Homo sapiens: one gene and its partners. The protein of the gene in region 1 interacts with the protein of each later gene in a pairwise test. Each region holds a gene or a part of one and is shown on either strand. Other genes may lie near its edges. The genes, in order: ARL6IP6, SLC10A1 and DRD2.

The links.
Region 2: the proteins of ARL6IP6 (region 1) and SLC10A1 interact in binary tests that used the Homo sapiens proteins (3 or more experiments, as listed by UniProt).
Region 3: the proteins of ARL6IP6 (region 1) and DRD2 interact in a two-hybrid assay, tested with the Homo sapiens proteins (one large-scale study listed by BioGRID and IntAct).

The regions. Positions count from the first base shown.
Region 1 is NC_000002.12:152,759,745-152,763,042, forward strand, and holds the end of ARL6IP6 (ADP-ribosylation factor-like protein 6-interacting protein 6), read left to right. Parts: intron 1-2; coding exon 3-96; 3' UTR 97-2,652; downstream 2,653-3,298.
Region 2 is NC_000014.9:69,777,437-69,780,258, reverse strand, and holds part of SLC10A1 (hepatic sodium/bile acid cotransporter), read left to right. Parts: intron 1-898; coding exon 899-1,077; intron 1,078-1,729; coding exon 1,730-1,926; intron 1,927-2,822. UniProt on the Homo sapiens protein: As a major transporter of conjugated bile salts from plasma into the hepatocyte, it plays a key role in the enterohepatic circulation of bile salts necessary for the solubilization and absorption of dietary fat and fat-soluble vitamins.
Region 3 is NC_000011.10:113,416,285-113,419,943, forward strand, and holds part of DRD2 (D(2) dopamine receptor), read right to left. Parts: intron 1,853-3,659; coding exon 1,743-1,852; intron 716-1,742; coding exon 579-715; intron 1-578. UniProt on the Homo sapiens protein: Dopamine receptor whose activity is mediated by G proteins which inhibit adenylyl cyclase. Positively regulates postnatal regression of retinal hyaloid vessels via suppression of VEGFR2/KDR activity, downstream of OPN5.

The DNA of each region.
Region 1 (3,298 bases):
AGGAAACTGACTGGACATTCTTTCCACATGGGCTATAGCATGGCGATTTTGAATGGCATCGTAGCTGCTCTTACTGTAGCATGGTGCCTCATGTAAACCCACACTGGAGCGATATTGTTGGCAAAACTTAATCATGATTGTTTTGTAATAACAAGAAGGAGCATCACTGTCTACTCAGAAGACTGAGAAACCTGCTGTTCATTATGTAGTTCAGATATTTATCACAATCATCCTCATTATGGAAGACCTTTTAAAGCATTGTTTTAGAATGTCTGAGTATTAAGATACAGATTAATTGGGAATATCTGAGTATTAAGTACTTTCTTCAGAGTATAAGATGTTTACCTCATCTTTTTACTTTTGTGTGTGTAGTTCTTTCAAGTTGTAGGAAACATTTTAATGGAATTTAAACTCAAAAACTTGAATACAGGACAATGCTTGCCTTTTCATGTATGTACTACATTTTTTGCTAAGAAATACTGATATTTCTGTTTAGTTGAGCTAGAAATACTTCTTATTTATACATTTAGGAAAGCAAATAATGCCTACTACTCCGACTTTTATAGAAGCTACTTTTAAATCAGAATATTTAATTTTTGATATTCATATAATTAATAGAAGTTGCATTTATATTTTTTATGGGGCATAGTTCCTTATGTGTTTTTTTAATGTATTTTCATACTACATACTGAATTTGTATGTTTTTAAAATTGTTACATCTAGACAACTGTAAACATTATTTTTTTAGCTAGTGCAAACCTAGTACCTGCCATTTTTACTAATTTTTGTCTTTAAAAAAAGCAAAAAAGCACATTGACCTAAGTTGAAAATTAAGTAAGTTTATTTTTAACAAAAAATGCCTGAAAAAAGCTAAATTATTTAAGTCATTAAGATATTGAGAAAAAATTTGAAATTTTTACTATTTCTGTTTCCACAATTCCAAATATTTATCTTGGTGTATATATTGTTACTTTAACAGAACTTGCATTATTTTGTTTTTAATAAATATAAACATGAAATTTTTGTATGTGAGAATGATTGAACTAGTTTGTTCTTAATCTCAAAAATTTAGTTACCAAAGTAGAAAAGGTATTTTGATACTAGATATTAAAAACTACATATAGTTAATATAATTTTATAATTTTTGTAATTAAATGTGCTCCTGTAATTGTGATATTTTGTTTTCTAAGTAATTAAGCCTTAATTTTTCCCCTATGTTACTAAAGACTTTTAATGTTTAGAAAGTTACCTCAGTTTTAGAAAGATGGACTACTTACAAAGCTGTTTTCCCTGGCCATAGGAAAACTTACAATAAGAAACCATTAAGTAGTCAAACTGCTTATTCAGGCTAAGTGGGAAATGAATTTGTGCAGTGTGTTCCCTTAATTATCTACTGAATGTTGTTACCGACTAAACAAGGTTTCTAAAAGTCTCGCATTTCTTTTACTATTCAAAACTCTTTGGTTGGAAATGACTAATACTGCTCCAATTTAAATTATCTGAAATGTGTGTGTGTGTGTGTGTATCTAAATATCAATCCCATGGCTTAAGTATTCCTACCAGAGTGGTGGTTGCCATCAGTCTATTTTCACTCCCTGCCTTCCTTCCTGCACGCTTAAACTCTTCACCCTTTGACTCCAAAGAGCCCTTTCATTGCAAAGATGTACACAAGTAACAGAATCAATTTATCTTCTCTCCACCACTCTGTATTCCCACGCACCACCAATGTGAGTAACTCCCTCCAGATTGTTTGTGTCTAATGACTAGGAAAGTTATTAACAGTAGACCCTAGATAGAGATATGTACACCCTAGACAGTCATGTGCCATATAACAACGTTTTGGTCACAACGAACTGTACTTATGATAGTGAATCCCCCCGTAAGATTATACTGCTGCATTTTTTACTTTATTTTTTCTCTGTTTAGATACACAAATATTTACCATTGTGTTACAGTTGCCTGCAATATTCAGTACAGTAACATGCAGTACAGGTTTATAGTCTAGGAGCAATAAGCTATACCATATAGCCTAGGTGTGTAGTAGGCTATACCATCTAGGTTTGTGTAAGTATACTCTGATGTTCACACAATGATGAAATTGCCTAATGACGCTTTTCTCAGAATATATCCTTGTCATTAAGCCAAACATGACTATATATACCTACAAGATATATATTAATATAGATAAATATAGAGAGAGATGTATCCGTAAGATATTTTTGTGGAATCCTAATTCTTCTGGACTGTTACTCCCCTTTTTTGGGAAATGACCCTCCTCTCTCCAGTCTGACACAGGGTCCAAATATAAATCATCTATATGCAGAATGATTAGGCAAGGATAGTCACCTAACTCTGGCTGAGCTAATCCTAATCTCATTTTGCCTGGCTACAATGAGTAGAATAGAGAAATGACTTCAGTGAAGTATGTCTCTTCCCAGGATTTTTCAGCTTGAAATTAAGATGTGACGAAGCTGGGAAAATGCAAGCCCAGGAAATGCTGGCAGCTGTAGTTCAGCCAGGCTCAGTGGGAAAGAATAAGGCTGATAACGGATATTGCTAATGGCGTTACCCTGGTCCCTGAAGCCCAGTGGCAATCCTGCCATTCTTGATACGTGAGTCAATAAATTTCTGTCTTTTGGCCTTTGCAGTTTACATTGGCTTTTGTCATTTGCAACAAAACAAGTCAAAATGAGCTTATCTAGCAGCTGGAATCCATCTCTATTGTGAAACTGACTCAGATGATCTCATCTCCTTATGTGTAGCTTACAGCATTCTATTTAGTTACTTGTGAAAGATAAACGGGGTGTAAGTATTCCTGTGGCTAGTGATTAGTCTCAGGGACTTGAAAAGACATTTTAGAATAAATTAAACTATTATTAATCTTGCTGTTTCATCAAGAAATTATGTCCCCAAATTCAGTTCCACCTTAAGTGTTATCAGAAAGAATATTACTGTAGTTATCAAGATATGATTCTTTAGTTAATACAACGTAATGAGTTTGAACTACAACTGTTACTTAATATCTTAGCATTTCCCGGTTTCCTTACCTGTCGAATGGGAAGAATAATACTTAACAAAATACTTAAACTACAGTGAAAATACTACATGTCAGAATTTGTAGGACCTAGATAAAACACTGTGTAAGGGTAATTTATAACTTCAAATACATTTATCAGGACGAAAGTACTATTGAAAGCTAAAGAGCTAAGAATGCAGATAAAAAGCACAAGCAGCAGAGTAACATCCCCGCCCCCACCACACACACAAGAAAGATTGGAAATAGGAAAGATAAGGATAC
Region 2 (2,822 bases), on another chromosome or scaffold:
TTTGAAAGGTTGCATCCTATGTTGCACAATGAAAAACCCTATAATTTCATTCAGAGTAGACCTGCATAGTTTCCAATGATGTTGTTATCACCCAAGATATTTCTGAAAGTTCTTTTGGGAACTTCCTTCATATTCAATTTGCAGGTCACTCAAGAAAGTAGGTTTGTCCCCTTATTATTAGACATCATTTTGGGTTTAAAACCGTATTTCCGGGCTTGATCATCCACCTTGTTTACCAGCTTTGTTTCAAATGACTCTTGGCAATTTCCAGAATTGATCCTAAAATGGATAAAATCCCTATCTGTAATCAAGGTATTTGAGACAAATATGTATGACAAGTTCTCATGAGTTTCAAAGTATGTGGAACAATGACAGTATTGTAGGAATGTGTATATAAGTTCCAAAAATACTTGACTTTTAAATAATATCCATTTTGCAGGAGTCCTGAATAGCCTCACGTAACACTTCACTGAAAGTCTGCTATCCAGAGATGTGTCAAAAGCAGTAACTGTGCTTGGCTGAGTTTGTAATAATCAAAGTGTTAATCAGCTGTCCCCAAGCTTCCTAGCTACTGATACGAAATCTAAAAAGATGGGCTGGGTGCAGTGGCTCACACCTGTAATCCCAGCACTTTGGAAGGCCAAGGCAGGAGGACCGCTAAGAGTCCAGGAGTAAGACCAGCCTGGGCAACATAGTAAGACCCTGTCTCTAATGTTAATAATTTTAAAAAAATTTAAAGAAAGGAATCCAAAAAGAAGATAAAGGTCTTTCATATTCCTTTCCACTTCCAGTGTTTTATTGCAATGTTTCCCACCTCCAATTTCTACCTGTGCTTCCCCACCTCTGTTCCTCTCTATCCCCAACTCTTCTAATTGCCTTTTCTTGTCTTCATTCCCAGGGAGGGATGATCATCATTCTCTTGTGCAGTGTGGCCGTCACAGTTCTCTCTGCCATCAATGTGGGGAAGAGCATCATGTTTGCCATGACACCACTCTTGATTGCCACCTCCTCCCTGATGCCTTTTATTGGCTTTCTGCTGGGTTATGTTCTCTCTGCTCTCTTCTGCCTCAATGGACGGTAGGTATTTTTTTTTTTTTTAAGAAAGGGTCTCACTCTGTTGCCCAGGCTGGAGGGGAGTAGCACATTCTCAGCTCACTGCAGCCTCAACCTCCAGGGTTTAACTGATCCTCCTGCCTCAGCCCCCCAAGTAACTGGGACTATAGGCACAAGCCACCATGACCAGCTGATTTAACTTTTCTGGAGACAGGGTTTTACCATGTTGCCCAGGCTAGTTTTGAACTAATGAGCTCAAGTGATCCACCTGCCTCAGCCTTCCAAAGTGCTAGGATTACAGGTGTGAGCCACTGCATGCCTGGAGATAGGTATTATTTTAGGTCCCACTGTCCCATGGGCTTCATTCTTGTCCTAGTCTTTCAGGAAACGAATAAGAAGCTAGGAACCTGAAATCTGGGCAAGACACTTTCCTGGCAATATGTTCAGATGCACTAACTGGACAAGAGACTTTAGACTTGAAAAAAATTGAATGAAGGTATTGAACGGGTTAAAAATCCAGACACCAAAGGTATCCAAACACCAGCAGCAATAGCAAAGTACCCCTGTCCAGGGTCTAGATTCCATCTGCTGCGAAACTCTTTGGTAGCAGCACTGGGACAAAGTTGCTCCCTCCAGTTCCCTCTGAGTGTATGTGGGGTTTTCTTCACCGGCACAGGTGCAGACGCACTGTCAGCATGGAGACTGGATGCCAAAATGTCCAACTCTGTTCCACCATCCTCAATGTGGCCTTTCCACCTGAAGTCATTGGACCACTTTTCTTCTTTCCCCTCCTCTACATGATTTTCCAGCTTGGAGAAGGGCTTCTCCTCATTGCCATATTTTGGTGCTATGAGAAATTCAAGACTCCCAAGGGTGAGTACTGAAATTATCCCCACTTCAAGTTCTGCTCCAATATTAGACCTGAGCCTGCCAACAAGCAAGTTTCTAGCAGGGACTTTTTGGATAGGGCTTTAACTCTTATCAAGTCACTAAGAACCAGGTAGCCCCAAGAAGCACCCAAGAAGCATTAAAGATCCAAGACTACTTCCATCAACTGCACTCCATTTCTTCCTTCTAGCTGGGAGAATGAAATTGCAGATGCAGTTTACCTCATAAAACTGAAGCAATTTGGGCTGCTTTGTCTCAGTGGGGAGACATCATAGGACAAAACTGCCTTGGACAACTGAGGTTATTAGTTGTGTGAAAGGCCTCTATTCGCAAGAGTTGGGGAAGTTTCCATTTCTCAGGACTAGGTTCTCATTTCCTGGAACCAGATCAGAGCCACAGCACCACTGGCACCTCCGTATGAGGAAAAACATATGAAAGCAATGCACCCTAATATAACCCAGAATAAAGAAAAAAAAAAAAGATTCCTCAACTCTAGTTACGCAGTAAAGGAAACTTAAGCATACGGTTGTTAAACAGTAACTACCTCCACAATAAACTTAATATGATTTATACTTTACTCTGATCACTATGGGGTTAACATAGCATCTCTTCTCTAAAATGCTCAGAGTATTACCTTTCAAAATAAAATTGAACCTCAAGACAGACCAGAGAACAGAGTGCCTTCCTCAAAGTGCACTTTAACACCAATTTTAAAAAAAAAAAAAAAAAAAAAAAAAAACAGGACATTCAAACCCACTTTATAACACATTTCATTATAACTCTCAACATTAGTATATTCTTCCTAAGTACCTACCCAAATCCTTCAACTGTCCCTTCATGTCCATGAATTGAAGTCCCCTTCAAAACCTTTCTAGACCCTA
Region 3 (3,659 bases), on another chromosome or scaffold:
ATGAGAGGAAGTTCCACGCTGGCGGGGGCTTTGTGTTGCCTCTGTCTGAGACACTCCTGACTCTGCCTCCCACAGAAATGGGCATGTGGTCAGCTTACCTCCTATTCACTTCTAGCTTTCCTGCTCCAGGTGGCTAAGGCCTGACCTGGGTTTAGCAGGCCCTGAGGGCTGCAGCTTCATTACAAAAATACTATTGTCAGGAGTGGATGGAAGCCCAGTAGCCTCCGCCATCCCATGTTCATGTGCACATATACACACATGCAGTTTGTGAAGCACGTCTTGCCTCTTCAACTTAATAACCAAAGTTGAAAATTCCCAGACATACCCCTGAACCATTATCCCCACTCCTCATCCAACTCCGTTGTGTCCTGGGCCACTGTTTCCTCTCTGCCAACCTAGAACAACTCTTGAGTGGGGCTTGGCCCAGGACACGTAGCCTGGACTCAGTCCAGGGTAGTGATAGGCCTCCATTGGGCCTCCACCCATATCTGTGCCAGGGACTCTGCTCCCTCAGGGCCCTTCGAGGGAGCAGGGGCCCAGGGCCAGCTGAGCCTCAGGCAAACAAAAGCAGAATGTACCTGCGTTATTGAGTCCGAAGAGGAGTGGGCAGGAGATGGTGAAGGACAGGACCCAGACGATGGAGATCATGACGGTGACCCGGCGCTTGGAGCTGTAGCGCGTATTGTACAGCATGGGCATGGCCACAGCTGTGTACCTGCAAGGGCGGGGGACCCTGAATCTGGGGTGCAGGCCCAGGGACCCCTCACTCCACAATATGCACACACCAGAGACACCCTCACTCCTTGGGGCTAAACAGTTGACACACCTCTATGAAGCTTGCCTGAGATGCTAACTCAACCCTCCCTCCTGTCCCCAAACTCAGATGGCGAGGACAGTTGGCAAAGCCCAAACACTTAATCACTGGTGAGCTATTGTTTACTCTTAGCTCATATCTATTATTCTAACCGGCCCCACCTGGATTTCAGGCTTTTCGAAGAACCATGGCCTGCATCTTTGCACTTTTGAAACTGTACCCACTGCACTTGTGTTGAGCCCATAAGGTGGAAATGTTTGTTGATAAATTGTTAGCCAGGCCCCTCAGAGCAAGATTTAAGCCTTAGTTAGCAGGAAATAACAATGGCAATTGTCTACAATCCTTCATCACATTTTTTTTTTTACCCAGCCCTTCTCATTCATTAACTTATTTCATCTTCCAAGAATGGTGTGAGGGAGGTAGGGTCATATCTGTGCAAATTAGTGGAAGGCTCCAAGGATGCAGCTTAGCAAGGTGTGCATGGCCTGGGACCCTTGGCCATGTGCCAAGGACATAAAATGCATAACCAGATACTGCAGCTCCAGGCCACAGGTGTCATCAATGTAGGTTTCTAGAAAATGAAACTGAGAGCTCTGAAAACGTCCATCATCTGCCCAAGGTCACATGAGTAAGATGTGCTAGAGCTAGGGCTTCCGTCAGAATCACAATCTTTCCCCTTTTGTACCAGTCACTGTCTGAGTATGCTTGGCAGCATCACTGTCCATAGATGGCTTCTCTTTAGGGAGTGTGTGCTCTCCTAGCCAAACATACACACATGCACACCCATACACACAAACACATGGACCCCCATGCACACAGCCAGCTGCACAGCATCACAGACACGAGACACAGCCTGGCTTTGAGAAAAGCTGGGGCAGCCAGAATGGTGAGTGGCCAGAGCAACCTCTTCCACCCTGGCTGGGCTCACCTGTCGATGCTGATGGCACACAAGTTCAGGATGCTCGCCGTGCACATCATGACGTCCAGAGTGACGAAGATGTCACAGTGAATCCTGCTGAATTTCCACTCACCTACCACCTGGGGACAAAGCAACATAATGGATGGACAGCAGGAGTGGGAGATTAGCTTAGGTCCTGTAGCCTGGTACTCCTGGAGCCGATGAGGCCACAGACTCAGGAGGCAGCTGCAAGTCTTGTGGGCATCCAGCTGGGGTGTGGGGAGTGATGCCCATGGGTGTCTGAGGCCCTTGCCCCTCGCTTATCTTCTCCCAGATACATAAGACCACTTATTGCCAATTACTGTGCTAGAAGAAAGACAGCCAACTTATACGGAGGGCCTCAACTTTAAACCTTAATCTCTGCAACCTTTGTTAACCCCATGTGTTTTCTTAGATTCTGTATTTGTGTATTTGGCACCCATTCATCACAGAGACACCTATATTGACTATATTTTTCTATCTTCTCTGATCCTGATATTCTGGCACTTGGGAGCCTCACAGACCCAGAGAGAGACTTACTGTCCCAGAGCTAGTTAATTCCTGAAGACAGAAAATGACTGACTTGGAAGGATGCCTCTCAAATGCAAGCCAGCCACCCCGTTTCTCTAATTCACACACACACCAAGACAATATTTCCCCTGTCCCAAATTATCTCAGGTACCAGAGAGACAACTAGAGATCACCCCTGTAGCCCAAAGCCTGCCAGGATGTTGAGACTAGCCAACCCTAGGTTGCTTAATCTGCCCTGCCTTGCACTTCCTGTGGGAGCCCCAACAGGGCTGTAGCCTGGGCTTTCCCTCACCCCTGATTCTGACTCTTGACCCAAGCCTGCTGCTTCCCCCTGCACCCCACATGGCGGGCTGAGCATCTGGTTTCTAGGGACATTGTGTATCACGTTAAACTCTTCCCAATGGCACTGGCTTCCCTGTGTTATCACTCAGCCATACCTCTGTAAATTAGATTCCAGGTAAAATTTTAGAATGCCCGTGAGGAAACTGAGAACCAATGAGGAAACCAAGCCTCCAAAAAGTGCAGTGATTTCCCCAAGGCCTGTGGGCTCAGTTCCTAGTCCTGCTCTGGCCCAGGCTCTGGCTGAGCCAGGCAAGCCCTTCAGTGGTTGGCCCAGTACATGGCAGAGTCGGGGCCCCAAAATGATCTGTTAAGAATAATGGTGAAGATGAAGACTCGCCATGAAACAGAGAAGAAATTTCTGCTCCTTCTTATACCCAGAGAACGAAAGAAGGCAGATCTGGGCTAGTGCTCGAGGAACACCCGAGTGGGCTGGGGTAGGCGGAGGGGTTGCTGTGATGAGCTGTGTCCTTGGTAGGATGGGAAATGAAGAGTCTAGCTCCTGGCAGGAGCACGTTTCTCATACACACATGCACACAGGCACACACACACACACACACACACACATGAACGCACCGCCCTCCCCCCTCCCCACGTAACACCCATTCACACACAGGCACACACTCATGGCAGATTACGCAGGCACACACTCACGGCAGCTGTCCCTAGCGCTCTGGAAGCTTGGAGCAGCCCCAGTTCCCTGAGGATGGAGTCAGGACAGGGAGATGCACCTTTGGCTTCTACCAATAGGAGCAGAGAGGAGCGTGAAAGCCCCCTCCCGCAACCCGGAGTAGGGCAGACTTCGTGTCACCGTGTAGCTTGGCAGCAGGGCTAATTATAACCTTGCTCATTCTGATCACTGCCCTCTCTTCTGCTCCTAGGCATCCAACCAAATGCTGGCATTTAAGCTCAATGATGGGCAATGCAGCTGCTGTCATCCTGTGTGGCAGAAACAGCAGCTTGCCCCAGAACACAGCAAGCCTCTCATGCGGCACTGTCTTCCTGGGAGCTCACATGGGGGCCCCGTACCAGGGCCTC